Linked DNA regions of Homo sapiens. The protein of the gene in region 2 purifies or fractionates together with the protein of the main gene of each other region. This does not show direct contact. Each region holds a gene or a part of one and is shown on either strand. Other genes may lie near its edges.

Region 1 (3,659 bases), on a different chromosome or scaffold from region 2:
TATATTTAAACGAAGCCCAAGTTCAAATAATGATAATTTCTTATTCATTTATGGGACATTTTAAAGATATGCTTATGCTTCACGTTTTATTTTATCCTTAGAACAATTCTGTGATGTTATATATAACTTATTTTTAATACAATACTAATTATTTTCTCATTGAGGCACAGAGAAGTAATTTTGTTTGTCGTTGGACAGGTAAGGACAAAATGAGAACTCAGATTTCCCAGTTCTCAACTTTGTGTTTTCTTTGTGTGCAATTAGAGAGTTTCAGATCTGTAAGTTCGAGTACATGTATTTAGCCCAGTGGTTCTTAAACGGCACAGATTGGAGGAGAAGCAGCTGTTTCATAATCATATGAGATAAATGTTTTATCCCTCACCACTCCCTTTTCTTACCTGCCCACATCCCAAGAAGACGTACCTGAATTGGAGGCTGGGGTGGGTGGTGTAATTTGCATATGCTCCCCTGGTGATAGGGACCTGTCCTTCTCCCCTCCTTGAGAACTGTTGATTTAAATAGTCACGTACCTAATTTCAGTAATAAACATTGGCCTCTCCTGACTTATATTTGAAAGTAAGTTTATATTTAATTGAAGAATTCATAAACATTTTAGGGGTTTAGGTTGCATTTTTATATTTTATTTTACACAAAAGATTGAAGGTATTATCAAGTTGAATAATTTTAACAGTGTTTTATTGATGGAGAATCTAATACAGGACAGTAGTATTTAGCTTGACATTGGATACATTTTCAACATTCAGAGGAAGTCTTTGTTATTTTGTTTTTTGCAAAATTTTCTTACGGTTCATTTAACTAGACTGTGAGTCTGGTCTGTATTTGAAAGATGACTTCTGTTTTTTATACGGACTCCTTTTTTAAACAATTCTATAACTACTGCCTTTGTATTAGCTTTTCCAGCTATCTCAAATGAAGTTTTCTACCTCTGCAAGTCCCAGCCATTCTTGCAGCAGAAGTATACGTTTGCATGTAGATAGTAAGCTCTTTATGAGAAGGTTGACTTTTTTTCTTTTTTTTTGAGACGGAGTCTCGCTCTGCTGCCCAGGCTGGAGTGCAGTGGTGCGATCTCGGCTCACTGCAAGCTCCGCCTCCCGGGTTCACGCCATTCTCCTGCCTCAGCCTCCCGAGTAGCTGGGACTACAGGCGCCGGCCACCCCGCCCGGCTAATTTTTTGTATTTTTAGTAGAGGCGGGGTTTCACTGTGTTAGCCAGGATGGTCTCGATCTCCTGACCTCATGATCCGCCCGCCTCTGCCTCCCAAAGTGCTGGGATTACAGGCGTGAGCCACCGCGCCCGGCCGAGAAGGTTGACTTTTAATCATCTGCTTGATAGAAAATAGTTAGGATCTACATTAAATAGATCTACCATTCAGTAAATATGTGACTGCCTATTTTGTGTTAAACTAAGATTCTCTCTTCTTAAGGAGCTCATGATTTAATTCGAAGAATGGCTTTTAACTGTGTAATTATAATATCATAACCTGGTATCATTGCCTCTCTTAGTGTCATGACAGATGTTAGTACCATTCCTTTTTCTTAGTGCCATGGCAGATGTTAAATACTCTAATGGACTATGCATAGTACAATATATAGCCATTACCTATTAATTACATTTTAGCACTAAAAATGAAGCCTGTTGACCATTCTTGTTAATATAACTGGTTTCCAATTTTTTTTTTCCTTTTTTTGAGACAGGGCTCTCCCTATGTTGCCCAGGCTAGTCTCAAACTCCTGGGCTCAAGCAATCTTCATGTCTTAGCCTCTCAAGCAGCGGGGATTAGAGACGGGTGCCACCACCTGTAATCCCAGGATATTTTTAATAGTCTGAAAAACACGTGGCTCTGTTTTTCAGACTATTAAAAAGTGAGGGTGGGCACCTTGGTTCACGCCTGTAATCCCAGCCCTTTGGTAGGCCAGGGCAGGAGGATTACTTGAACCCAGGAGTTTGAGACCATCCTGGGCAACATGACGAAACCCCATCTCTACAAAAAATACAAAAATTAGCCTGTGTGGTGGCTTGTGCCTGTAGTCCCAGCTACTCAAGAAGCTGAGATGGGAGGATCACTTGAGCCTGTGAGGTCGAGGCTGCAGGGAGCTATGATCACACCACTGCACTCCAGCCTGGACGACAAAGTGAGACCCTGTCTCCAAAAAAAAAAAAAAAAAAAAAGTGAACTAGAACGTATCATAGAATCTGTCGTAATAAAGACAGTAACAGTTTGTGCAGCAATGTATGTGGAATGTATTTCTCACTGGGTACACTGGTAAAATTTTTTTTAAAGTCACTGAATTATAGGACTGAATTTCCTCTGATAGGAAAGTGGAAAGTTTAAGTGACTTTTCTTTTTAGACCATTGTGAGCTTATAAATATAGGACTAAATATAATTTAAAGAGCTGTTAAAAGCATGTTCAGTTACTGGAATAAACCAGCATTTATTATATTATTATAGTAATATCTGTCAAGAACTTATTTGAATCTGCAAAAGTCAAACTTGATGCTTCTTTTGCTTTATAATACATGTGCCATTTGGATGTCAATGATGAAACATACTCTGCAGGAGATGATGTCATATTTTATCAGACCTATTGGTACTGTCAGACCTGTGGACTATCAGATGGTGGGGCATCAGCATCAATGGTAGCAGGAGACTTCTATGGGTGAATTAAATGGTAGAGAAAATAGATGATCATGAAACAGGATAGGAAGACTATTAACTTGGAATTGTAGTCTATAAATTGAGAAGAAGGTACTTGTGCAATAGTAGTTCATTACTAAAGAATGTGTTGATAAGCAGTTATCTTTTCCTTTTACAAATCTTTATACCTTTTCTGATAATGAGCCAACATTACATAGGTGGATATGTTCCATCTAAGAACTGTTACTGATTAAAGTAACTGTAGCCTTAAACCTTGTTGCTTACTTTTCCTTCTTGTATGTGTATGTTTTTTCTTAATGGTGATTTTTTCATATTTTATATAATTATTTTAACCTGCTACCCTTTTCCTCAGAAAACTTCCACAGCTTGGGAGGAAAGGCTTTTTTGACGGTGGAATTAGCCCATCGTCTTTTTCCTGTTAAAATTTGTATTACAGGGTGAGTATCCTCTATCTGAAGTGCTTGAGACCAGAAGTGTTTTGGATTTTAGGGGTTTTTTTGGTTTTTGTTTTCGAATTTTAGAATATTTAAATTATATTTACCAGGTTAGTATCCTTAATCTGAAAAATCTGAAATCCAAAATGCTCCAGTGAGCATTTCCTCTGATAGTCATGTTGGCACTGAAAAAATTTTTGATTTTGCATGATTTTGGATTTCAGATTTTCAGATTAGGGATATTCAACCTGTATACCAAATAAAATGTTTTTTAAGTTGGGCATGATGGTGCATGCTTGTAGTCTCAGCTCCAGGAGTTTGAGTCCATCCTGGGCAATGTAGTGAAACTCTGCTAAATTGTTTTTAAAGTTCTTGATCTGTTTTTATATGTGATGTTGTATGTAGGACAAAATTCTGTAAGCATTCAGGTTTTTGTGCAGACTTGTCTTTGCCCTCCACCTTACTTGTTCTTTGTCCTCTTTCTTTATGTGTGTATGAGCCAAGTTCTATTCAGATAGGTTGGTACTTTCTCAAACAATATATTCAC
Region 2 (2,803 bases):
ATTATATATTTTGGCATGTGGTAATTGACGTGTTCTTTGAAATTTTAGAAACTAAACAGTGTTTAGCTTAGTTCCCTAGATTGTTATACTCTAGAACTGTTAAGACTTATAATAACATAAAAATGCCTCATCCTCAGTCTTTATCTGCTCTTTTAAAACAGACTTTAATAAAATGCATCAGTGACTCAACTATCCACATCCATGTGTCATACTTAAAGGGTAGATAACTAAGAAGAGGCTGTTACCAAACAACTTGTATTTTTATACTTAAGAAAATTATAGAGAAAACATAATCTTACAGAAAAATATATAATATAAAGTAATTTAGTGAATTAGTCTCAAATGCAAGAAAATTCACTGTTATTTTTCTTTCTTTAGAAGCCTGGAAAAACAAATTATTTGCTGAACTTAGCACTTCAGTTTTCTCTTATTCAGGGGAGAAAACTCTCTCATATAAAATGTAAAATATCTTAATATTTATTTTTATAACTTAAATTGACTTTTCTTCTCCATCAAATCAAATGCAATGGAGCAGGAGTTCTGTGTTTGTCACCAATCCTTTATTGAAACTGGTAACTTACACACTTTATAATAGAACAACAAAAATAATGTTCAATATATACAGCCTTCGCATGGACTATCTGACTATACACAGGCAGAGTGATAACACAATCTAATCTTCATCATAATCTGTGCACAAAAAGACACCAAACAGACAACATGTGCACATCACAGTGAAATGACATCACAGGTCCAGTGAAAATTCAGCATAATACAAAATGGACTGCTCTATTGCAAATGACATCTTTCTAAATGCCCAGCTCTTACTCAGTAGTAATTTACCCAGAGTCTGAAGCAGAGATTGGTTGTGTGGCTATAAGTCTCTTGAGTGAGACAACCTCTGCAGATAAGTTTGCTATCCCCTGCTTCAAATACAAGTTCTCTGGGTCAGAAACTTTGTAGCCACTGTCTTTCATTTCAACAACTCCAGTTTTGAAACTATTCTGAGTTTTGCCACTCAGTTCTTTTTGATGCCAGTGCTCCGATTTGAGAGACCAATCTTGAATGTTAGTCACTTGCACTGAGAAAGGAGTAAGAGAAGAATGTACCATACTTGGGGCACTATGCTTTTCGAGTTCGAAATGTCTTTTAGATGTCATGTCAATAGGTGAGGAAAGTTTTTGCGTGGCCTCAAATTCATTATCAAAGGCTTCTACTTTGATCTGCATGGCTTTGGCTTTGATCCGGAGCTTGTGTGGCAAGGCAGAGGAATTCACTTCTGGAACTTTAACCACAGTTGCATGCACATGCTTGAGTTCAACTGGAGAATGGATGGGGCCCTTGGGGACCTGTTGCTCGTCTTCTCCATCAGATGACTTTCCTACCACACCATCATCAGTTTCCGACGTTCTCGGGGAGTTGCTGGAGGATCGGTTGACTTGCAGTAGTGGGGGAGAGTGTGAGTACCCAGAGAAAGAATTCCCCATATAGTTTTGATAGATGGACGCTGTGTAAGAGCCTCGGTCATCTCTTGGCTCCCTTGTGTAGCTCTCTAATTCCATCGGCTCTTGCTTGATAATCTGGAACTTGTTTTCAGGACTTCTGCAGCTTCCCTGCACAGAGCTCTCCTGCGTGTGTTCTACTGAGGACACTTCTGAAACATCGGACAGCGAGCTTTGTGGAGAGTGTTTAATGACAGAAATACAACTACTTGACACCATCGAGGGTTCGTGCTCGTCCACAAATGAACTCACATTGGATTTGGAAGTCTGGTAATCTTGAAAGTACACAGCTGTAGAATTACTGAGTTTCTGAATCTCTTGAGCATATGCTGTGGAGCTAATTAAACCAAACTTTAATTTTAGTGAAAGCAGCTCAGCTTTTAAAGTGGCGTTTTCTTCTCCCAGTGCAATTAGTTTGTTCTCTAAAACCAGGTCATTCAGTCGACGCTTCTCACGAGATCTTTTGGCAGCTTCATTATTTTTCCGCCTTTTTTCCCAATACATAGCATCTTTCTTTTCATCAGGAATGAATTCCCGTTTCCTCCGACATGCAGAAGATTTGTTCTTCCCCACACTTCCTTCACTGAGAAGCAGCTCCTCACCTGTTGTGGAGTCTTCTGACACTTCCGTTAAAGCAGAATTAAGGACCATCATCTTGTCCACATTGCTACTGGCATCAAGAGACGCCTGCTCCTTTTTGACGGTCTGCATTTTTCTCAGCTGCATCAGAAACAACCTTACCCTATCTATGTGTGTAGGAGAACAAATTAATTTCCCCGTATTCTCAAGCTCTTTAAAAACTCTGGTTTAAAATCCATCAATATTCTTCCTTTTGTTCTACCGTCTGGGATAAATCCGTCAGGCTCCTTATTGAATGAAGTTGGGCCTCCTTCGTTATCTGCAATACATGAATAAAAAAAAAACCAGTTATTCACTGGATAAATGTTTATTACAAATTATGTACAAGGAAATATGCTAAGCATTTAGGGCATACAAGCACAGATGAGGCATGGCCACAGTTCTTTCTTTCAACAAGTTAGCATTTTCAAAAAGGAAATAAGTTCCCAAATACCTAAACTATAAAGCTGTAAAGGACAAATCCCTAATGAGGCCTATCAGTAAGAGAATATGTGATCCAGGAAAGTGAGGGAAAAATAAAATAACCTCTGCCCAGAGAGAAGTAGAGGAAGGCTGTATTTAATGAGGCGAAATGGAGAAATAGTTGGGTGTGGGCAATTACAGGAAGGAAATGACAGATAGCCTCTGGTTGGTAAGTTTCTAAACAGTACATGCATACCGTG
Region 3 (3,659 bases), on a different chromosome or scaffold from region 2:
ATTCATTTATTCATTCAATTACTCAAGAAATACTTATTGAAATCTTAAAATGCTAGACACTGTTTTAGAGCTATATACAACATTGAACAAAGTCCTTGTCCTCATGGGGCTTACATTCTAGTGGAAGAAATTAGAATCAACAAATATGTCAGGTGTTGATTAAATGCTATGGAGAAAACAAGCCAGGTTAGAAGGACAGGGCATGCTAGGTAGGAAAGGAGGGGCCTGGGAGTGTTATTTTAAACAGAATAGTCAGGGAAGACTTCTTAGAGGTGGCATGGAAGAGAACCATGGGAGCGCCATAAGAGCACCACGGGAGCGTCTGGGGAAAACCTTCCAGACAGAATGACAAGTGCAGGAGCCCCAGTGCAAGAGTGTGCTCTGCCTGTTGATGCACTAGCAAGGCAGAGTGCCTGAAGGAGAGGAAGTGGGGGAGGGTGATGGCAGATAAGATCAGAGAGGCGATAGGAGCCAGATTTTATAGGCCCTTGTAAGCATCTATGGGACCTGGCCTTCTCTCTGAGACTGGAAGCCATTGGAGAAATGTGACCATGGGAGTGGCATTATTATTTAAAAGTATACTCTGATTGCTTTGTGGTGAATAGGTTAAAGGGTAGAAATAGAGACCTATTAAGAAGCTACTGAAATAATCCAGGCAGGGGCGAGACAATGGAAACTAAAAGGATGAGGGTTGCCACAGAGAGGATAAGAAGTGGACAGATTCTGAATATATTTCAAAGATGCAGAGGATGATATCTGCTAATGGGTTGGCTGTGACTATAAAAGAAGGGGAAACTAAGGGCTTCAAGGTTTTGGGCTTGACAACCACCTAAAGGATGAAGCTGCCGTTAACTGAGATGGGAAAGACCATGGGTGGAGCTAGTTGATAGCAAAATTTTAAAACTCAGGATTTCAGTTTTGGATGTACAGGTCTAAGATGCTATGCATCTAAGTGGAAATGCTGAGTAGGAAGTTATTGAGGCTGGAGTTCGGAAAGAGGTCTGCACTGGAAATAGAAATGTGGAGATCATCAATATGGCATTTAAAGCCATGAAAATGGATAAGATCACCTGGGACATTAAGATAAACGCAGTGGCTCACGCCTGTAATCCCAGCACTTTGGGAGGCCAAGGCAAGCGGGTCACCTGAGGTCAGGAGTTCGAGACCAGCCTGGCCAAACATGGTGAAACCCCATCTCTACTAAAAATACAAAAAAATTAGCCAGGCTTGGTGGCGGACACCTGTAATCCCAGCTACTCAGGAGGCTGAGGCAGGAGAATCACTTGAACCTGGGAGGTGGAGGTTGCCGTGAGCCAAGATCGCACCAGTGCACTCAAAAAAAGATAGAGAAGAATGGAAGTCCAAAGACTAAACCTCAGGGCACTTCAAGATTTAGAGGTTGGAAAAATGAGATGAAATCAGCAAAGGAACTAACTAAGAAGGAAGAGCCAAAAGGTACGACAAACACCAGGAGAGACAGTGATAAACTGAGGCAGACACTGCCAGTAAGTTAAGAAAATGAGCACTGGGGACTCATCACTGGAACTGGCAAGGCAGATGTTATTGTGGGCCTTGAGAAGAGCAATTCTGGAGTGTGGGGGTGGAAGCTCGACCAGAGGGGGTTCAAGAGAAAAACTGTAGCAAGGAATTAGAGATAGCAAGTGAAAACAATCCTTTCAAGACGTTTTACTACAAAGGAAAGGAGAGAAATGGGAAGATCACTAGAAATGCAAGTGAAATTGAGTTAAAGGGGAGAATTGCTATAACAATCCTTGGGTGGATGATTTGCAATGGGATCAGGACACAAGGGTTGACCTTAAAGCCAAAAGTGAGATAATTTTACATTGTATGTGTCTGGGTGCGTGTGTGTGTGTGTGTGTTTCCATAGTTAACAGTTAGCTGTCCAGAAGCAGGCATGGAATAAGTAGATCTGTATTTAAAGTTGATGTTCCGTCAAGTGAGTATGGCAGAGGGAGCAAGGGTTCAGGAGTTGGGTGTATGCAATAGATTAGTTACAGTGATGGGCCACAGAATCTGTCCCGGATAAGGAAAAAGACAGAGAAAAGATGATAGGATTAAAAGATAGTATGATCACTGGATTATAGATCCCTTTGGAAGCCGAAGTGCCATGCAGAGTGAGCCAAAATATAAGAAGTGGTAGGTAGATGGCAGAATCCTTCAAACTGGAGCCGTGGAAGGGGTTCAGTTATTGGTAATGCAAAGTCTAAAGTATGTTTATAAAAGAAAGGGAAGTTAAGGACACCAAGGTTTTTGGCCTGACAACCACCTAAAGGATAAAGCTGCCATTAACTGAGATGGAGAAGACCGTGGGTGGAGCTAGTCTACAGCAAAAATTTAAAACTCAGGGCTTCAGTTGTGGACGTACAGGTCTAAGATGCTATGCATCCAAGTGGAAGTGTTGAGTAAGAAGTTCGACTTTGCATTACCAATATGACCTTGTATATTGATAATGCAAAGGAACAGGTAACAAAGGTCAAGCGGACAAGACCCCTAGAAGACAGGAGGTGCAGGTAATTAGAACTGTGAATAAAAATTTAAATCTCTAAGAATTATGTGAAGAGTAGTTCTGGGGACAGGGACAGCAAGCCAGGGCTCTCTCAAAGGATTTTAAGGGTTGACCTGGGAGTCTGTAGGTGACTGCAAGAAGGTGGGCATGATGAACCCTGGGGGAAGAAGGCTCCTATGGTGAGGAGGGAGAGCAGGACCACTCAGTGGCAGGGAAGTTGGTAGGAGCCAGACTCACAGTTTTATAAGCCACATTAAATATTTAGCTTTTATGTTTATTTCTTGAAATAAACACAATAGAATAATGGTTAATGATTGTGAAGTCCCAGATCAGATACCCTCATATTCAAATGTAAGTATTCAAAAGTAAGAAGCAAATTCCAAAACCAGATTTCTACTATTCTCTGTCACATGAGAGATTGGTATTGAGTTCTCATTATGGCTTCTCCCAGATCAACATTTTAAAATTCCACAATTATTTGCTCTGTCCAGATTGCCTTACTCCATTTTATTCAATGGGTTGTTAATGTTTTAAGTCATAAGTCAAGTAGATTGAAGAACAATTAGTCTAATCTTTCGGTTCCTATTTGATCAGACAGTACTCAGGTGGCAACTGAAAGCGAATTTTTAGAACTTCACCAATACTCATCTTATTTTATATATGTTAAGAAACCATATCAGAAACTGTCATATTTGTGGAGTCTGATTCGGGTACTCATTGACACACAGAACCTCCTCAAGCTCAGAGAGAAGCATCTTCCCTGAACCCTCCCTATTTTGATTCATTTTTAATCTAACATTTTCTCTGCCATTGGGTACCTCTTGTTTGCTAATTTCATGGGATGCAACATCTGCAAAAGTCAGAATTTACCGAACTGGTTAAACAGTAATCTCCGTTTTAGACTAACCATTCAGCATTTTTCATTGGTCTGAACAGCTTACAATTTTTCTAAGAGCTGAGTACTTTCAGCCAAAATTTGTCCACTACTGGGAGATACCTAGAAATGATGTAAGCTCAATCTGATAAACAATAAATGTTTCAAAACATGCAAATTCTTCCCCTTCTCTTTATATTAGAGTAAGCAAAGTTTGGAAAGTGCTTTGTATATGTAGGAATTCATCCAATTTCTCTT

Evidence for each region.
Region 1: the proteins of NFIL3 (region 2) and COP1 purify together in Homo sapiens (affinity purification with mass spectrometry; 3 studies listed by BioGRID and IntAct, with this or other methods). This does not show direct contact.
Region 3: the proteins of NFIL3 (region 2) and FUCA2 purify together in Homo sapiens (affinity purification with mass spectrometry; one large-scale study listed by BioGRID and IntAct). This does not show direct contact.

What each region holds. Positions count from the first base shown.
Region 1 is NC_000001.11:176,200,717-176,204,375, reverse strand, and holds part of COP1 (E3 ubiquitin-protein ligase COP1), read left to right. Parts: intron 1-3,659. UniProt on the Homo sapiens protein: E3 ubiquitin-protein ligase that mediates ubiquitination and subsequent proteasomal degradation of target proteins.
Region 2 is NC_000009.12:91,408,507-91,411,309, forward strand, and holds the end of NFIL3 (nuclear factor interleukin-3-regulated protein), read right to left. Parts: intron 2,675-2,803; exon of another isoform or gene 2,497-2,674; intron 2,401-2,496; 5' UTR 2,229-2,400; coding exon 840-2,228; 3' UTR 539-839; downstream 1-538.
Region 3 is NC_000006.12:143,498,190-143,501,848, forward strand, and holds part of FUCA2 (plasma alpha-L-fucosidase precursor), read right to left. Parts: intron 1-3,659. UniProt on the Homo sapiens protein: Alpha-L-fucosidase is responsible for hydrolyzing the alpha-1,6-linked fucose joined to the reducing-end N-acetylglucosamine of the carbohydrate moieties of glycoproteins.